Regions from separate parts of the Homo sapiens genome. Here region 1 is linked to region 2. Evidence: fine-mapped expression QTL. A gene starts in region 2. The other region holds a variant in brackets. All regions are shown on one strand. Distances are from middle to middle.

The links.
Region 1: its variant is fine-mapped to the expression of CASP8 in monocytes (Schmiedel 2018, PIP 0.92).

What each region holds. Positions count from the first base shown.
Region 1 is chr2:201,309,492-201,319,768 of GRCh38, forward strand. The region is part of intron 9 of FLACC1 (flagellum associated containing coiled-coil domains 1); the gene reads right to left. Among named protein-coding and RNA genes, the nearest start is that of FLACC1, 43 kb to the right of the region's middle. The variant T/A (reference allele first, on the strand shown) is at 4,929.
Region 2 is chr2:201,254,299-201,264,575 of GRCh38, forward strand. It overlaps CASP8 (caspase 8), which reads left to right and starts at 6,238. Exons shown (of 9, transcript NM_001372051.1): 1 at 6,238-6,315. RefSeq lists enhancers at 3,283-3,332, 3,813-3,942, 3,902-4,046, 4,043-4,102, 4,123-4,542 and a cis regulatory region at 3,974.

The DNA.
Region 1 (10,277 bases), 55 kb after region 2:
GGCAAACTATGCACAGTGTTTGCCCCACTAGAACTGAGCTTCCTTTGAAGAAAGGTAGAGTTCTCCATGTTGAAGGATCATATGTTAGCTCCCCCTAAATCACAAATCCCTCTTCAATAGCACAAGAAGAAAGGAGGCCGGGCGCAGTGGCTCACACCTGTAATCCCAGCACTTTGGGAGGTGGAGGCAGGCAGATCACAAGGTCAAGAGGTCAAGACCATCCTGGCCAACATGGTGAAACCCCATCTCTACTAAAAATACAAAAATTAGCTGGGCGTGGTGGCACACACCTGTAGTCCCAGCTACTTGGGAGGCTGAGGCAGGAGACTCGCTTGAACCTAGAAGGCAGAGGTTGCAGTGAGCCGAGATCACGCCACTGCACTCCAGCCTGGTGACAGAGTGAGACTCTGTCTCAAAAAAAAAAAAAAAAAAAAAAGAAGAAGAAAGGAAATACCTAGTAGTTAATTTGAACACTTAGAAAATAAGGGGATGTTTTTCAGAGAATGTCCACTTTTTCTCAGCAAATCTAACTTTCTTTTGTGGTTGAGGTTAAATAAGCCTAATCTAATACCAATACTGTTGCTTGGCTCAGATTTCATGAACATGGAATCCTAGGAGGGGGAAGGCCCTGGACCTGGATGACACTAGTAGGGTCCAAGGACGCTGACTGCCTTATTTTTCAGGTTAGCAGAAGGATTCACACCCGACCTATTCTATTTACCACTCACACGTCTTAGGCTCTGTTCTATGATGTTTTCCCTGAATATACCAAGGAGTATCTTAAAAAAATGAGTTTTAGACACAGGCTCAAAACTGAAATTGTAAGTGGTAAATAGAACTTTAGAGGTGGTACTGGTGTTTAACTTTTGATAGAGCGACCAAGTGTCCTTGTCTGCCTGACACTTAGGGGTTTCCTGGGACTCTGGACTCTCAGTGCTAAAACCTGGAAAGTCTCAGGCCAACTAGAACTAGTTGGTCACTATACTTCACAATTAAACAGGATGAAGGCTTGAGGCTTCAGTCCTTTCCCGCCCCACTAGCCATCTCTTAACTCTCTTCATCTACCTAGTAAGAATCATGCCCTAACTTTGTTTTCCTGGGCCTTCATCAAATGAGCTGATTAAATGGATGGGTTTTATTCTGAGATGACGGGAGCACTCCATGCTTTGCTTGTGGCAGTGCAGAGTGATACATTCTTTTTGGATGGCAATTTGGCCATATATATTAAAGGCCTTAAAAATGTTCATTCCAAAACAAGAACTAACCCCAAAGCTAGGAGAAGAAAAGAAATAACTAAAATCAGAACAGAACTGAATGGAATCAAAATTCAAAAACCCATACAAAGAATCAATGAAACAAAAAGTTGGATCTTTGAAAGGAAATGCAAGACCGATAGAGTGCTAGCTACATTAGCAAAGAAAAAAACGACGATCCAAATAAGCACATTTAGAAAGGACAAAGGTGACATTACAACTAATCCCACAGAAATATAAAAGAACCTCAGAGATCATTATGAACATCTGTATGCATACAAACAAGAAAATCTAGAGGAAATGGATAAATTCCTGGAAACACAACCTCCAAAGATTGAATCAAGAAGCAATTGAAACCCCAAATAGACAATATTGAGTTTTGAAATTGATTCAGTAATAAAATAATCTAACACTAAAAAAAAAAAAAAATCCTGGGACCAGAAAGATTCACAGCCAAATTCTACCAAAAGTACAGAGAAGAACTGGTACCAATTCTACTGAAACTATTCCAAAAAAATGAGGAGGAGGGACTCCTCCCTAACTTATTCTATGAAGCTGGCATTATCCTTATACCAAAACCTGGCAAAGACAAAAAAGAAACTACAGGCCAATATCCCTATGAACATAGACTGAAAAAAATGCTCAACAAAATACTTGCAAATTGAATCCAGCTACACATGAAAAAGTTAATTCATGGCCAGGCACGGTGGCTCATACCTGTTATCCCAGCACTATGGGAGGTTGAGTCAGGAGAATTGCTTGAGCCCAGGAGTTTAAGCAACATGATATGAGACCCCACATCTACAGAAAAAATAAAAAATTAGCTAGGTGTAGTGGTCCCAGCTATTTAGGAGGCTGAGGTGTGAGGATCACTCCAGCCCAGGAGGTTGAGGCTTCAATGAGCTGTGATTGTGCTGCTGCACTCCAGCCCAGGTGACAGAATGAGACACTGACTCAAAAAAAAAAAAAAAAAAGTTAATTCACCATGATCAAGTAGGCTTCATTCTCACAATGCAAGGTTGGTTCAACATACGTGAATCCATAAATGTGATTCACCACATAAACAGAATTAGAAAGAAAACCCATATGATCATCTCAATAGACATGGAAAAAGCCTTTGATAAAATCCAACATCCCTTCATGATAAAAACTCTCAGCAAATTAGGTTATCAAAGGAACTTACTTCAAAATAATAAGAGCCATCTATGACAAACCCACAGCCAAAATCCTACTGAATGGGCAAAAGCTGGAAGCATTACCCTTGAGAACTAGCACAAGACAAGGATGCCCACTCTCACCTCTCTTATTCAACATAGCACTGGAAGTACTAGCCAGAGCCATTAGGCAAGAGAAAGAAATAAAAGGCATCCAAATAGGAAAAGAAGAAGTCAAATTTTTCTGTTCACTGATAACATAATTGCATACCTAGAAAACTTTAAAGAATCTGCCAAAAGGCTCCTGGAACTGATAAACAAGTTCAGTAAAGTTTCAGGATACAAAATCAATGTACAAAAAATAAGTAGCATTTCTATACACCAATAATGTCCAAGGTGAGAGCCAAATCAATAACGTAATCCCATTCACTATAGACACAAAAAGAATAAAATCCCTAAAAATATAGCTAACCAAGGAGGTAAAAGGAGAACTATAAATTGCTGCTGAAAGAAATCAGAGACAACACAAACAAATGGAAAAACATTCCATGCTCATGGATTAGAAGAGTCAATATCATTAAGATGGCCACACTACTTAAAGCAATTAAGAGATTAAATGCTATTCCTGTCAAACTACCAACATCATTTTTCACAGAATTAGAAAAAAATTATTGTAAAATTCATATGGAACCAAAAAAGAGTCTAAATAGCCAAAGCAATCCTAAGCAAAAAGAACAAAGCTGGAGGCATCTCATTACCTGACTTCAAAATATACTACTAATATAAGGCTACAGAGATGGTGGACGGGAAGCAGGACTAGACTGCAGCTCCCACTCGGATGGACAGAGCAGCATGTGGAGTCTTGCATCGTGAACTTTTGCTCCAGAACTACTGCAGGAATAATTCAGGAAAGCCAAGAGAATCCACAGACCCTCTGAAGGAAGTGGATTGCTCCCGTAGGACCCGGGAGATGCCCCAAATACTGTGAGTGCCCAAACTGTGGAAGTAGGAAAGGGGGATTGTCCACCTTCAAACACACAACCTCACTGGGGAACCTGAAGGTCTAGATCATGGGAGAAGATTCTGACCTTACCTGGAGCTGAGTCAATTTAGAGAACCAAGTGAAATATAGGGGTAAAGGAAGTAGCAGGAAAAGCCCTGTGGGCTCTCTGGGTTCCCAGGGATGCCATTTCTGACTTGTCTCACAGGGCTACCTGGGGAGGACTGCCAGAGGAACTCAGAAAACATCACAGGGAGAAGGAAAACTCCAGCTGAATTTTCTAACAATTCCAACTGAATAGGAAATCTCCTGGCCAGAACTTGGGGGAAGGCATGAATCTGGTGTGCAGACTCCACAGGCAGGGAAGCACAAAAGCACTACTTGCTTTTGCAGCTGGGAGGCTGGTAGCCTGGGGCAAGTTCTCAGTCCTGTTTGCCCACTGCCTGGAAACAGACTTGGTACTACTGGGTTGGGGGCATGGTGGGAGTGAGATTGATCTTCTGGGTTTCGTGGGAGCTGGGTGAGGTCTGTGACTGCCAGTTTACCCCTACTTCCCTGACAACCTGCACGACACAGCAGAAGTAGCCATAATCCTCCTGGGAACATAATTCCATTTACCTGGGAACCACACCTCCATCCCCACAGCAGCTGCAGCAAGACTCGCCCAAGAAGAGTCTGAGCTCAGACACGCCTAGCCCTGCCCCAACCTGATGGTCCTTTCCTACTCACCCTGGTAGCTGAAGACAAAGGGCATATACTCTTGGGAGTTCTAGGGCCCCACCCACCGCCTGATCCTCCCCATACTACCACAGCTGATGCTGTCTTGAAAGCATCATCTCCTGGCAGGAGGCCAACCAGCACAAAAATAGTGCATTAAATGACCAAAACTAAGGACCCTCACAGAGTCCATCTCACTCCCCTGCTACCTCTACCAGAGCAGGTACTGGTATCCACAGCTGAGAGACCCACAGATGGTTCACATCACAGGACTCTGTGCAGACAACCCCCAATACCAGCCTGGAACCTGGTAGGACTGCTGGATGTCTAGATCCTAAAAAGAGATAACAATCACTACAGCTTGGGCTCTCAGGAAGGCACATCCCTAGGAAAAGGGGGAGAGTACTACATCAAGAGAACACGCCATAGGACAAAAGAATCTGAACAACAGCCTTGAGCCCTAGATCTTCCCTCTGACAGAACCTACCCAAATGAGAAGGAACAAGAAAACCAACTCTGGTAATATGAAAAAACAAGGTTCTTTAACATCCCCCACAAAATCACACTAGCTTACCAGATGTGGATCTAAACCAAGAAGAAACCCCTGATCTACCTGACAAAGAACTCATCAAGGAAGCAACAGAGAAAGGCAAAGCCCAATTTAAGGAAATTTAAAAAAAAATGATACAAGAAATGAGGGGAGAAATCTTCAATGAAATAACATAAATAAAAAACAAAACTTCAGGAAACAATGGACACACTTATAGAAATGCAAAATGCTCTGGTACGTCTCAGCAATAGAAT[T/A]GAGCAAGCACAAGAAAGAACTCAGAGCCTGAAGACAAGGTTTTTGAATTAACCCAATCCAACAAAGACAAAGAAAAAAGAATAAGAAAATATGAACAAAGCCTCCAAGGAGTCTGGGATGTTAAACAACCAAATGTAAAAATAATTGGTGTTCCTGAGGAAGAAGAGAAATCTAAAAGTTTGGAAACACATTTGTGCAATAATTGAGGGAAACTTCCCCACCCTTGCTAGAGACCTAGATATCCAAATACAAGAAGCTCAAAGAACACTTGAGAAATTTATCACAAAAAGATCATAGCCTAGGCACATTGTCATCAGGTTATCTAAAGTTAAGATGAAGGAAAGAATCTTAAGAGCTGTGAGGCAAAAGCACCAGGTAACCTGTAAAGGAAAACCTATCAGACTAACAGCAGATTTCTCAGCAGAAACCTTACAAGCAAGAAAGGATTAGGGCCCTATCTTCAGCCTCCTTAAACAAAACAATTATCAGCCAAGAATTTTGTACCAAGCAAAACCAAGCTTCATAAATGAAGGAAAGATACAGTCTTTTTCAGGCAAACAAATGCTAAAAGAACTTGCCACTACCAAGGCAGCACTACAAAAACTGCTAAAAGGAGCTCTAAATCTTGAAACAAATCCTGGAAACACATCAAAACAGAACCTCTTTAAAGCATAAATCTCACAGGACCTATAATACAAAAAAAAGCAAAAACAAAAACAAAAACAAAAAAACCCAAGGCATACAGGAAACAAATAGCACAATGAATGGAATGGTACCTCACATCTCAATACTAACATTGAATATAAATGGCCTAAATGCTCTACTTAAAAGATACAGAATTGCTGAATGGGTAAGAATTCACCAATCAACTATCTGCTGCCTTCAGTTGACTCACCTAACACATAAGAACTCATAAACTTAAGGAAAGGGGTGGAAAAAGACATTCCATGCAAATGGACACCAAAAGCTAGCAGGAGTAGCTATTCTTACATCAGACAAGACAAACTTTAAAGCAACAGCAGTTAAAAAAGACAAAGAGGGACATTATATAATGGTAAAAGGCCTTCTCCAACAGGAAAATATCACAATCCTAAATATATATGCACCTAACACTGGAGCTCCCAAATTTATAAAACAATTACTCCTAGACCTAAAAAATGAGATAGACAGCAACACAATGATAGTGGCGGACTTCATTACTCCACTGACAGCACTAGACAGGTCAAGAAGACAGAAAGTTAACAAAGAAACAATAGATTTAAAATATACCCTGGAACAAATGGACTTAAGAGATATTTACAGAACATTCTATCCAACAACCCCAGAATATACATTTATTCAACAGCATATGGAACTTTCTCCCAGATAGACCATATGATAGGCCACAAAACAAGCCTCAATAAATTTAAAATTGAAATTATATCAAGCATTCTCTCAGACCACAGTGGAATAAAACTGGAAATCAACTCCAAAAGGAATGTTCAAAACCATGCAAATACATGGAAATTAAATAACCTGTTCCTGAATGATTATTGAGTCAACAATGAAATCAAGATGGAAATTTAAAAAAATTCTTCAAACTGAATGACAACAGTGACATAAAACCTATCAAAACCTCTGGGATACAGCAAAGGCAGTGCAAAGAGGAAAGCTAAAAGCCCTAAACACTTATATAAAAAAGTCTGAAAGAGCAAAAACAGACAATATAAGGTCACACCTCAAGGAACTAGAGAAACAAGAACAAACCAAACACAAACCCAGCAGAAGAAAGGAAATAACCAAGATCAGAGCAGAACTGAATGAAATCAAACAAACAAACAAACAAAAAATACAAAAGATAAATGAAACAAAAAGCTGGTTCTTTGAAAAGATAAATAAAATTGATAGATCATTAGCAAGATTAACCAAGAAGAGAGAAAATCCAAATAAGCTTAATTAGAAATGAAAAGGGAGATATTACAACTGACACCACAGAAATACAAGAGATCATTCAAGGCTACTGTGAACACCTTTACGTGCATAAACTAGAAAACCTAGAGGAGACAGATAAATTCCTGGAAAGATACAACCCTCCTAGCTTAAATCAGGAAGAATTAGATACCCCGAACAGACCAATAACAAGCAGTGAGATTGGAATGATAATTAAAAAATTACCTACACAAAAAAGTCCAGGACTAGATGGATTCACAGCAGAACTCTACCAGACATTCAAAGAAGGATTGGTACCAATCCTATTAACACTATTCCACAAGATAAAGAGGGAATCCTCCCTAAATCATTGTATGAAGCCAGTATCACCCTAATACTAAAAACAGGAAAAGACATAACCAAAAAAGAAAACTACAGACCAATATCCTTGATGAACATAGATGCAAAAATCCTTAACAAAATACTGGCTAACTGAATCCAACAACATATCAAAAAGATAATCCACCATAATCAAGTGGGTTTCATACCAGGGATATAGGCTTAACATACTCAAGTCAATAAATGTGATACACAACATAAAAAGAATTAAAAATAAAAATCACATGATCATTTCAATAGATGCGGAAAAAGCATTTGACAAAATCCAGCATGCTTTATGATTAAAACTCTCAGCAAAACTAGCATACAAGGGCCATACCTCAATGTAATAAAAGCCATCTATGACAAACCCACAGCCAAAATCATACTGAATGGGGAAAAGTTGGAAGCATTCCCACTGAGGACTGGAACATGACAAGGATGCCCACTCTCACCACTCCTCTTCAACATAGTACTGGAAGTCCTAGCCAGAGCAATCAGACAAGAGAGAGAAATAAAGGGCACCCAAATCAGTAAAGAGGAAGTCAAACTATTGCTGTTTGCTGATGATATAATTGTATACCTACAAAACCCTAAAGATTCCTCCAAAAAGCTCCTAGAACTGATAAAAGAATTCAGTAAAGTTTCCAGATACAAAATTAATGTGCACAAATCAGTAGCTCTGCTATACACTGACAGCGACTAAGGTGAAAATCAAATCAAGAACTCAACCCCTTTTACAATAGCTGCAAAAGAAAAATAAAATGTTTGGACTATACCTAACCAAGGAGTTGTAAGACCTGTACAAGGAAAACTATAAAACACTGCTAAAGAAATCATAGATGACACAAACAAATGGAAACACATCCCATGCTCACTGATGGGTAGAATCAATATTGTGAAAAAGATCATACTGCCAAAAGCAATCTACAAATTTAATGCAATTCCCATCAAAATACCACCATCGTTTTTCACAGAACTAGAAAAAAAACTCCTTAAATCCATATGGAACCAAAAAAGAACCCACATAGCCAAAGCAAGACTAAGCAAAACAAAACAAAGCAAAACAAGCAAACAAAAAATCAAAAAGCAAAAAACCTAACAAATCTGGAGGCATCACATTACCTGATTTCAAACTATATTATATGGCCATAGTCACCAAAACACCATGGTACTGGTATAAATATAGGCACATAGACCAATGGAACAGAACAGTGAACTCAGAAATAAACCCAAATACTTACAGCCAACTGATCTTTGACTAAGCAAACACAAATATAAAGTGGGGAAAGCACATCTTATTCAACAAATGGTGCTGGGATAATTGGCTAGCCACATGTAGGAGAATGAAACTGGATCCTCATCTCTCATCTTACACAAAAATAAACTCAAGATGGATCAAGGACTTAAATCTAAGACCTGAAAATATAAAAATTCTAGAAGATAACATCAGAAAAACCCTTCTAGACATTGGCTTAGGCAAGGATTTCATTACCAAGAACACAAAAGCAAATGTAATAAAAACAAAGATAAATGGCTGGGACTTAATTAAACTAAAGAGCTTTTGCATGGCAAAAAGAACAGTCATCAGAGCAAACAGACAACCCACAGAGTGGGAGAAAATCTTCACAATCTATACATCTGACAAAGGACTAATATCCAGAATCTACAACAAACTAAAACAAATTAGCAAGAAAAAACAAATAACCCATCAAAAAGTGGGCTAAGGACATGAATAGACAATTCTCAAAAGAAGATATACAAATGGCCAACAAACATATGAAAAAGTGCTCAACATCACTAATGATCAGGGAAATGCAAATCAAAACCACAATGAGATACCACCTTACTCCTACAAGAATGGCCATAATCAAAAAATAAAAAAAAAATACATGTTGGCATGGATGTGGTGAACAGAGAACACTTCTACACTGCTGGTGGGAATGTAAACTAGTACAACTGCTATGGAAAACAGCATAGAGATTCTTTAAAGAACTAAAAGTAGAACTACCATTTGATTCAGAAATTCCATATATATATGATAGAATACTACTCAGTCATAAAAAGTAATGAATTAATGGCATCAACACAACTTGGATGAGATTGGAGACTTATTCTAAGTGAAGTAACTCAGGAATGGAAAACCAAACATCGTATGTTCTCACTCATAAGTGGAAGCTAAGCTATGAGGATGCAAAGGCATAAGAATAACACAATGGATTTTGGGGACTCAGGGGGAAAGAGTGGGAAGGGGGTGAGGGATAAAAGACTACAAATTGAGTGCAGTGTATACTGCTCGGGTGATGGGCACACCAAAATCTCACAAATCACCACTAAAGTACTTACTCATGTAACCAAACACCTCCTGTTTCCTAATAACCCATAGAAATAAAAAAATTTAAAAAAATATAAGGCTACAGTAACCAAAACAGCTTGGTACTGATACAAAAACAGACACATAGATCAATGGAACAGAATAGCAAACTCAGAAATAAAGCTGCACACCTACATCCATCTGATCTTCAACAAAGTAGACAAAAACAAGTGGTGGGGAAGGAGTTCCCTATTCAATAAATGATGCTGGGATAGCTGGCTAGCCATATGCAGAAAAATAAAACTGGGCCCCTACCTTTCACCATATACAAAAATCAACCCAAGATGCCTTAAAGATTTAAACATAAGAACTCAAACTCTAAGAATCCTAGAAGAAAACCTAGGAAACACCATTCTGAACACTGGCCTTGGGAAAGAATTTATGACTAAGTCCTCAAAAGCAACTGCAACAAAAACAAAAATTGACAAGTGGGACCTAATTAAACTAAAGAGCTTCTGCACAGCAAAAAAACCCGTCAACAAAGTAAACAGGCAACCTACAAAAAAAGAGAAAATATTCACAAACTACGCATCTGACAAATATCTAATATCCAGAATCTATAAGTAACTTAAACAATTGAACAAGCAAAAAACAACCCCATTAAAAAGTGGGCAAAAGACATGAACAGACACTTCTCAAAAGAAGACAGAAGTTTGTTTGTGTTTTTCCAAAATGGCAGATTAGAGGC
Region 2 (10,277 bases):
CATTTTAATACCAAAAGAAAAACTTAAAATCCCAGTTGCTAAAATCTTTGTCTTAGACAACTCTTTGAGCCTCTCCCTACAAGGCCCAGAAAGGAATGAGATAGATGTGAATGGAATCTGTTTTCCCTTCCCTTGCCACGCTCTGGAGGAGGAGTCTAGGGCAGTAGCCAAGGCCAGCTGCCAGTCAAGGAAAGGGGAGCGGCCCCGTTGAATCCACAAACCACACCATCCTGGCCCATGGGTTATATACAAACTCCCACATTGGCAACAAACAAAGGGCATGCACATTCAGGGGATTTTGCTTTCACTGTGAGTGTTTATCTTTGAAGGGTGTCACATCAAGATGAATGGGAAGGGTGTGTTGCAGTTGAGCTGAGGTTTGGTCTTTCTTGGCTTTTTTAGGGACACTTACAGGTCCAAATCTGCTTTCAGCCGGCTGGTGGACATGGTAGGAGACACAGTAGTCTCAGGACCAGGCCTCCAGGTGGGAGCTGAGATTCTAGAGGGTGGAAACCACTTGGAGATTGAGTCAAAGCAGACCTGTCCTCATTCTGTGCTGGGCAGGAGCCAGCTCTCCATGTCCCTGCAGCTCCAGCAACACCTCCGGATCTTTCAGCTTCCCTGGGACTAAGGACCATGCACATTATTAATTCTGATATAAACAGTCACACAGGCACATGTCTCAAGATGAGGGTGAGAAGTTGGTTACAGCAAATGAAGTAATAATGATCTTTGTGCTTCACAATAGGAATTCAACCAACCTGAGGTTTATAATTCACTTATTAACACTTTTTATTTTTGTTGAGACGGAGTGTCCCTCTGTCACTCACGCTGGAGTGCAATGGTGTCATCTCGGCTCACTGCAACCTCCGCCTCCTGGGCTCAAGTGAGTCTCGTGCCTTGAGTGGCTGAGACTACAGGCACATGCCACCATGCCCAACTAATTTTTTTGTATTTTTAGTAGAGATGGGGTTTTGCCATGTTGGCTAGGCTGGTCTCAAACTCCTGGCTTCAAGTGATCCGCCTACCTCAATCTCTTCAAGCGCTGGGATTACAGGGGTAAGCCACTGTGCCTGGCCATAATTCATTTATCAGTCATATATATATACACACACACTGGGAGAATCTAGGGTCAGTGCCTTACAAATGGCACAAGTTGAAGCCCTGAGACTCCCACTCCTACCCTGCTCCCCCCATTCTCAGTACTGCTCCTCAGATGCCTCCAGCAGATCATCCATTTCTGCTAGGCTGGGCCTGGGTACATGCAGGGAGATGTGTACAGGGGCTAAGAGCAGAAACTTTTGAGTGAGACACTCCTGAGTTCATGCACTGGCCCTGCCATTTGTCAGCTAATTGATGTTGCATTTAATTGCATCATCTGTATGTAAGCCTAATAATTTATAGCCATCTTAGAGATGTTGTGAGCTTAAATAACATAGTAGTGAATATTTATTTATTTGTTTATTTATTTATTTAGACAGGGCCTCGCTCTGTCACCTAGGCTGGAGTGCAGTGGTGTGATCATAGCTCACTGCAGCCTTGACCTCCCACACTCCAGTTATCCTCTCACCTCAGCCTCCTGAGTAGCTTGAGACAACAGATGCATGCCACCATAACTGACTAATTTTTTAAAATTTTCTGCAGAGACAGTGTCTCCCTATGTTGCCCAGGCTGGCCTCGATCTCTTGGGCTCAAGCGATCATCCTGCCTTGGTCTTCCAAAGTGCTGGGATTACTGGTGTGAGCCACTGCACCCACAGCCTATTTATTGAGAAATGTGGAAGGCCCAGGCACTATTCTAAGTGCTCCAGCTGTTTTATCTCCCACAGTTTTGCTCAGATAGGAGTTCCAAAGCTGGAGCTGGAAGACTCATATTTTTAGAAATGTTACAGTTAATTCTGAGGTGGGTCAGATTGAGATTCATGGCTATGCATTAATGTTTAGGTGGTGACTAACCACTCAGGGTTTTAGAGACAAACAGACCTTATTCTGTCACTCACTGACTGAGCGTGGCCAAGTCTTTCAGCCTCTCTAAGCCTCAGTGTCCTCATCCATAAAATGGGACCAATCGTAGCATCCACTTCTGAGAACTGTTCAGAAGTGGAAATGAGCTAGTTTAGGTGGCTGTGTCTGGCATACGCCAATGGTTTGATAAGTATTAGCTTGTGCCTTTATTAGGCCAACTCCTTTTTGTTAGGTGACTGAGAAACCAAGGACCTTCTGCCCTTTATGCACCAGTCACTATTAGTTTAAATTTGTTGCTCTTCCATCCACATGATTCATTCCAAATTTGAAGTGTTGGAGAAAGGGAGTTAGTATGTCATAGAAAAATCTCTGTTTTTGGCTCAGCAGGACTGAGTTTGACTCCATGTAACTGTCTGAGTCTTAGTTTCCTCATCCATAACATGGGAGAACAATACCCTGAATTAGAGAATTCTGCTGCCAGAATTAGAGATAGTTCATGTCAAGGTGCAACATATAGGTAATGTGTTATTGCTGGTGTTCTGGTTATAAAATGTACAAGATGTGAAAGCAAAAGGGCAGAAAACCCTTTTTAAAAATTCATGGCTGGGCGCGCTGCCTCATGCCTGTAATCCCAGCACTCTGCCAGGCCGAGGCGGGTGGATCACCTGAGGTCGTGAGTTTGAGACCAGCCTGACCAACATGGAGAAACCCTGTCTCTACTAAAAATACAAAATTAGCCGGGCATGGTGGCGCATGCCTGTAATCCCAGCTACCCAGGAGGCTGAGGCAGGAGAATCGCTTGAACCCGGGAGGCGGAGGTTGCTGTGAGCCGAGATGGCACCATTGCACTCCAGCCTGGGCAACAAGAGCGAAACTCCGTCCCCCGAACAAAAAATTCAAATGGGAAAGAGAGGCAGATGGCAGAGAACAGGGGAGGGGCTGGGCACCGTGGCTCATGCCTGTAATCCCAGCACTTTGGGAGGCCAAGGCGGGTGGATTTCTTGAGGTCAGGAGTTCAAGACCAGTCTGACCAACATGGTGAATCCCCATCTCTATTAAAAATACAAAAATTAGCCGGGGGTGGTGGTGGGTGCCTGTAGTCCCAGCTACTCGGGAGGCTGAGGCAGGAGAATCACCTGAACTCAGGAGGTGGAGGTTGCAGTGAGTCAAGATCGCACCACTGTACTGTTGCCTGGGCAACGCACCGAGACTCCGTCTCAAAAAAAAAAAAAAAATGAGAGAACAGGGGAGGGTCTAGGGCTCAGAGCTTTGGAGAACAGACCTCAGTAGCACCAACACTCCAGGATCAATGCTACAAAGACACGGGTTACAACTAAACTGGAGAACATGGCCAAGGATGGGAACTCAGCCTGAGCAGGGCTGAGCCGAGCAGGGCTAAGCCAAGTAGGGCTGAGCCAGAACACTTCCTCCTTTTTTCTGAACAATCTACCTACATTTCAGCTACAGGGCTGGCTTTACCCAGTCCGGCGGGAGGGAGGAGAGGGCTGGTCTGTGACTTCAGTGCTGAGGTTTGATCAAGGCAAAGGGAAACTTCCTATTCCCAGACCCTTTGCAAGAAAGAATGGCATATTACTTGCCACCGACAGGGGTTATTATTACTAAATGGAGTCAGTATAAATGCTTTCCAATAAAGCATGTCCAGCGCTCGGGCTTTAGTTTGCACGTCCATGAATTGTCTGCCACATCCCTCTTCTGAATGGTTGGAAATTGGGCATCTGTTCCTTTAAACAGGAAACATTTCTTGTTCGAGTGAGTCATCTCTGTTCTGCTTTAGGAGTAAAGTTTACCCTGCAGTTCCTTCTGTGGTGAAGTTTTCTCTTTCTCTCGGAGACCAGATTCTGCCTTTCTGCTGGAGGGAAGTGTTTTCACAGGTTCTCCTCCTTTTATCTTTTGTGTTTTTTTTCAAGCCCTGCTGAATTTGCTAGTCAACTCAACAGGAAGTGAGGCCATGGAGGGAGGCAGAAGAGCCAGGGTGGTTATTGAAAGTAAAAGAAACTTCTTCCTGGGAGCCTTTCCCACCCCCTTCCCTGCTGAGCACGTGGAGTTAGGCAGGTTAGGGGACTCGGAGACTGCGATGGTGCCAGGAAAGGGTGGAGCGGGTGAGTGCCTGTTGCCAAGGTGGCCTCTTCAACAGGAAACCACAATATTTTTGTTTCTTGACTTGCTCTAGAAACAGGGCTGTGGGGGTGGGGAAGCAACTTGGATCTGCCCTTCTGAGGACACCTCTGGGTGCTGCCTGGCCCAGGTCTCCTGTGTGGTTTCTCTCTGAGCCGTTGCCTCTGACTTTGCTACTTTTTCACTCTGAGCAGTCTCCAGTTCCTCTGCTACCTTTTTGTCCTCCAAGCTTCCCTGCCGCCTCGAATGCAGATACACGGTCTCCCTCCTGTGGACCCGTTTGGAGAGTCCAGAAGACTTTATCAATCCACTTTTTTTTCTTTTTCATTTGGCCCTGGGGCCGACGGTTAAGTACTTTATTCTGTCATTCTGTCGAATCACGATGCCCTGAGGTGCACAGCCCCTTCCCCCTCTTCCGTGTCTGAAGGGTTTCCTTTTATCTCTCCACCCCCACCCTTGCCCTCCTGCCCTCTCTCTTGTTCCCCAAAGACAGTTCTCTAATGTTTTGATGTGGATTCGTGAATTTATCTGTATCTTTGCAAAATGTATTTTTCTTTTGTATGTGTACACTGTTTTTTAACTATGCGATCTCAGGCAAGTAATTCCTCTGTGCCTCTGTTATCTCATCATTAAATGATTAATAATGCCTCCAGAGGTGACTGTGAGGCTTGAAGGAGATAATACGCATACATCACTTACTACACGAGTTAGCAATTATTATTGCATATTAATACTATTGGTATTTTATTTTGCTCATTCTGTTTCTATTTCTTTTTTATTTATTTATTTTTTGAGACAAAGTCTTGCTCTGTCACCCAGGCTGCAGTGCAGTGGTGCAATCACGGCTCACTGCAGCCTCAACATCCTGGGATCAAGCAATTTTCCCATCTCAGCCTTCAGATTAGCTGGGACCACAGGCGCGTGCTACCACACCTGGCTAATTAAAAAATTTTTCTTCATAGAGATGGTGTCTCATTTTGTTGCCCAGGCTGGTCTCAAACTCCTATGCTCAAGGGATCCTCCCACCTTGGCCTCTCAAAGTGCTAGGATTACATGCATGAGCCACGGTGGCCATCCAGGCATTGATATTATGAGGCCATCTTGACCTAGCCCTCTCTGGTGAAGAGTCCTTTTCAGATACTTCGTTCAGTCTTCTCAGCTATGAGTCCCTACCCTCTGAAAGCTTATATTCTATTTGGGGAAAGACAAAAGGCAGTTTCAAAGAAGAGAGGTGTTTGATTTTCTTTTCCTACTTTTAATATCAGAAAACATTTCATCTAACTCTCAGTATGAAGGCAATATTTTGTTTACTGGTATATCCCTAGAGCCCAACATGGTGAGGGCCCCAGGATTTGCTTCTTTGATAAGATGGTAAACCCAGCTTTCAGCTAACTTCATGGTTTCCTCAGCTACACTCATATACAAGGATCACCTTTGGTAAGATGGACTTACCATCTTACCAAAGAGTTTTTGCATTTTAGAGTTTTTTCTTTTTAGATTTTTTTCATTTTAGAATTTTTTTATTTCAGAGTTTTTTCTTTTTAGAGGTTTTTCATTTTAGAGTTTTTTCTTTTTAGAGTTTTTTTTTTTTTTTAATTTTAGAGTATTTTAGGCTGCTGAGGGTGGAATCTGGTGACCTTGGGGCCACAGAGATGCTCCTTGGCTAAACCAGGGGCTTTAGCTCTGAAAGTTCACAGCCACCCTGAGAACCAAGATGAGAGGGCTCTGCAGTGTCCAATCTCAAGACCTCTCTGAGGTGCTCCATCAAGATTCATTGAATGAAAAAATTAAAGTCTTAATGATGAACCCAGAAAAATCTTTAAATCCTAAATATGAAATGAAAGTGTTCTTAGTTACAATCCAGTCCAACGTCCTTGTTTTGGAATGTGGAAATGAGGCCCCAAAGGTAAAATGGCCCATCCAAAGTCACAGCCAGGGGCCAGTGCTCAGGTGGCCAGGTGCCCTGCGTGCGGTCTCCTGGACCACCAGGCCTTTTTCCTGCAGCTTTAGAAGCTTTAGAAGGCACTCTGCTCACTCAGGGGCAAGTGGTAAGCGCTCTTTCCCCTCTAGTGTTTGTGACTCAGGAGTTTCGAAACAGGAAGTAGAGCTGGCTGGCTGTGCCCTTCCGTCCTTCATTAGACGTTTGCTCTTGTCTTAGATGCTCAGATGGTAGTGGATAGGCCTGTGACGAAGGTGCTACCATCGTGAGAGTAAGGTAAGGATTTGCCTCTTTGTTAAGGTCAGAGGGGCCTTTTGGGAGGAAGGCCTTTGATTCTGGAGTTTTCTAGGCTGCTGAGAGTGAGATCGGGTGGCCCTGGGGCCATGGAGGTGATCCTCGTATGTGAGTGTGGATGGGGAAACCATGAAGTTAGTGTAAGAGGTAGCAGTCCCTCTGAGAGCCTTGCCGAGGGCCGTGCAGTTTCCAGATCTGAAGGCCATTCTAGCTTAGACTGATGAAGTCCTAGGAGCTTCTGAAATGCTGCAAGTTTAACTACTTGTATAAAGGCCTCATCCTGATCCCAGTCAAACTTGTGAAATAATAGAAGCCAAAATTTAAATCTCTACTGACTTTGCTGCTACAGCTATCCTCCCACCAACACACATACCCACCAACATACACACTTGCCAACATAAACGCACACACACATACACACAAACACACCCATGTGGTCCTACTAATTCAATTATTTATTTTTTAAAGAAATTAAAAAAGACTGGGCGTGGTGGCTCTCGCCTGTCATCCCAGCACTTTGGGAGGTCGAGGCGGTGGTTCACCTGAGGTCGGGAGTTTGAGACCAGCTTGACCAACATGAAGAAACCCCGTCTCTACTAAAAATACAAAATTAGCCGGGCATGATGGCGCATGCCTGTAATCCCAGCTACTCGGGAGGCTGAGGCAGGAGAATCGCTTGAACCTGGGAGGTGGAAGTTGTGGTGAGCCGAGATCGTGCCACTGCACTCCAGCCTGGGCAACAAGAGCGAAACTCCGTCTCAAAAAAAAAAAAAAAAAAAAATTAAAAAGATACAGAACAGTTCAAAAAACAATATAATGGGAAGACTAGATAGACACAATCAGAGACCTGCACTTGTGGGGTTAAGAATTTACAGGTGAAGTTGCAAGTTTCATTCTGTTTGAAAATGATGGGATTATATGTTTTGCTGAGGTTTGGACACCTTTGCTGGGTTGTTTGAATGCCGTGGCTGCAGCGCCCTGTTATGGACATCATGTGCGTGCAGAATGGATGTCTGTCAGGTTCCGGGGCAGCCCGCAGTCTGAGGCAGCCAGCCTGGATTGGAGGGAGTGGCAATACTACCTGCCGGTTAGGGGTTTGGGCCTGAGAGCGAGTGGCTTTCAGGTTCTCTCAAGCTTCGGATGAGATGCAGGTTTCTGCTTCCGATGGCAAATGCATGTTTTGCTTTTTAGTTATCACTGCAAGAGCTAGGATGCTGCTAGAATATTACTGGAATGATTGTGATGAGATGGAATGTATTTACAGTTTAATTGTGACATGTAATACAGTGGTAGAATGGGACTCTGGAATGAGATGCTGGGGCCTAGATTCTAGCACTTCCTTTGTGAGGCTCTAACCCCCTCTCCTATAGTGGATTTGTTAAGAACTTCTGTTTTTGTGGCTTTGTTATTATAAAATTTTTTGAAATGTTGTTCTCTAAAAAAGTTATGATTTTATGTTTTTCTTCATGAGATTCTTTCACTGCCTTCCAGCTGCAAGTAGAATGACGTCTAAATCTTTGTGATCTGTCACTGAAGCCCTTGAGTGAGACACTTAAATCTGGCTGTGGCTCTCTCTCTTACTAGCTTATTTCCAAGCCGTGATTTTTCACAACAGAAAAATGGGGACAGTAATAGTAGTTTCTTCAGAGGCTTTTAGTGAAATGAGGTTAAAAAATATTTTTATGTTTATATGGATATATAGATTACAAACATTTATATATCATTTATTTATATGATTATTATAAACACATATTTATATTTAAATACTTTGGGGCATAAATATATAAAATAATAAATATACTTATGTAATACAAATAGACTTATATACATTTACTATTTAGCAGAGATTATATAAAATATATGTATTACATGGCAACATATTCAAATTTACATATGTTATATATACATGTGGAAAAAAAATTGGGAAAAGGCCACAAAATGTGACCAAAGAATTACTTCCAAATGGCAAGTTTTTAAGTAATTTTTATTTTCTTTTTATACTTCTCTGTACTTTCTCTATGAAACAAGTGTTACTTTTACTGTTTTTAGGAACCAAAAATACAAGTACATTGTTTAAAAAATACTAGCTTAACAAAGTTTCTAGCCCATAAGCTAGTGCAGAAAATCTAGGTCCCATAAAACAAGAACTGCCACACGATGTCTCTCCCCTTACAGTGCTGGATGGCCCGTTGTTAATGGTGTCATAAATCCTTTGCAAGTGACTGTTTTCTAGGTACTATGACTAGAGGGATGTGTAACTTAAGCAAAAAACAAAAAACAGAAAAGGCTGACTATCATCTGACAGTGTATCCTGGAACACCTAGGCCAGAGAAGAAGCCACGTTAGCATTTTCCCTTCTAAATGTCAGTTATGATTTGATGGGGAAACCACTTAAAAAGCATTGTCACGTTGTTGAAAAGGTAATGAAATGAGTGAGATGAGATGGCTATGGAGGACGGAGCTATGCGCCAATCTTATTATATCCAAATTCATGTCATCTCAGCCTTGGATTGTATTGATTTTTATTATATACTGTCAGAAAATGCTATTGAATGTGTAACAAGAGCCTCAAAAAGGTTTATTCATTTTGACACCATAATACTACTTTTAGGAAATTATTCTAAGAAAATAATTAGAGGTATTCTTAAAGATTTGCGTTTTAAAGTCATCCTAAATGTAATCAGGAACTGGCTATGTAAATTATAGCCCATCTCTAAGATTAAGTGCCTTACAGATATTAAAACCCATGCTGTAGAAGAAAAACTAAAGACAGGAAAGTACTTACAATACAAGATGTACTTACCAGTGGAAAAATCCACTTATACTACAGAAATATGATGTGTTCAAATATAAGGAAAAATGTGTATGCATAAAATATTTGGTAGGAAAGAGTAAAATATTACTGGGCATTTATATTTGGATGGTGGAATTATACATAATTTTAATTTTCCTTTTTATCTTTTCTGTATTGTCTAAAATGAATACACTAAGCATTGTTATCCTCAGAAAAAAATAATTGAGGGATGGGGGAAAGGAAGTCCTGCTTTCATTTGATTCTTTGGTTGGTTTTATTCTGTAAGATGAGACTTTAACAGAGGTTAGAATGCATTAAAAATTGTAAAGACAGTTGACCTAATGGCACTAAACAGGGTTAGATCTAGTTTAGATCTTTTCCAGCATGTGAATAAGAATGGATCTTTAAATAAAGATTTTAACTAGGTATATGTTTTAGAATAAGTCATACATGTACATGGTAAAAATTCAAACAGTACAAACTGTGCAGCAAGGTATGGGAAATAAAGCAGCTCTCACTGTCACCTCCACCCATCAGCCTTCTCACACTGCACGCCCACATCTGTGTGTAATTCTGCTTTTCTTTAACATTACTGAAGGAACTTCCTGTGCATTTTTTGTCAGAGCTCTTCTGTGAATACACAAAATATGTACTGATCAATACATTATGTAGATCACGCAGGCTCAACCACATTGATCTTCCTATTCTTTCTAGTAGCCAAATAGAGTTCCCTGGAATATGATTAATAGCTTGCCTAAATCTTCTAATGCTGATAAACAGTTGTTTCTGCTCTTTCGTTATTTCAAGGAATGCTACCATGAATAGCCTTATATATGGTTTTGAGTATACTTGTTTAAGTGAATGTAGGAAAAACTCTTGGAAGTTAAATTGTGGGCCAGTTTATGTGAATTTTATATTTTGACAGAGATGGCTAAATTACCCACCTGTTTTTTTGTTTTGTTTTGGTTTTGGTTTTGCTTTTTTTTTTTAAGAGTTGGGGTCTTGCTACCTGGGGTCTTGCCACCTGGGGTCTTGCCCAGGGTAGACCTGAACTCCTGGGCCACGTTGGTTTATTTTACTGCATTCCCAGGGCCTAGAGCAACGATTGACACGTGCTAGCAGTATCTATTGGAAATTCTGGCCAACTTGC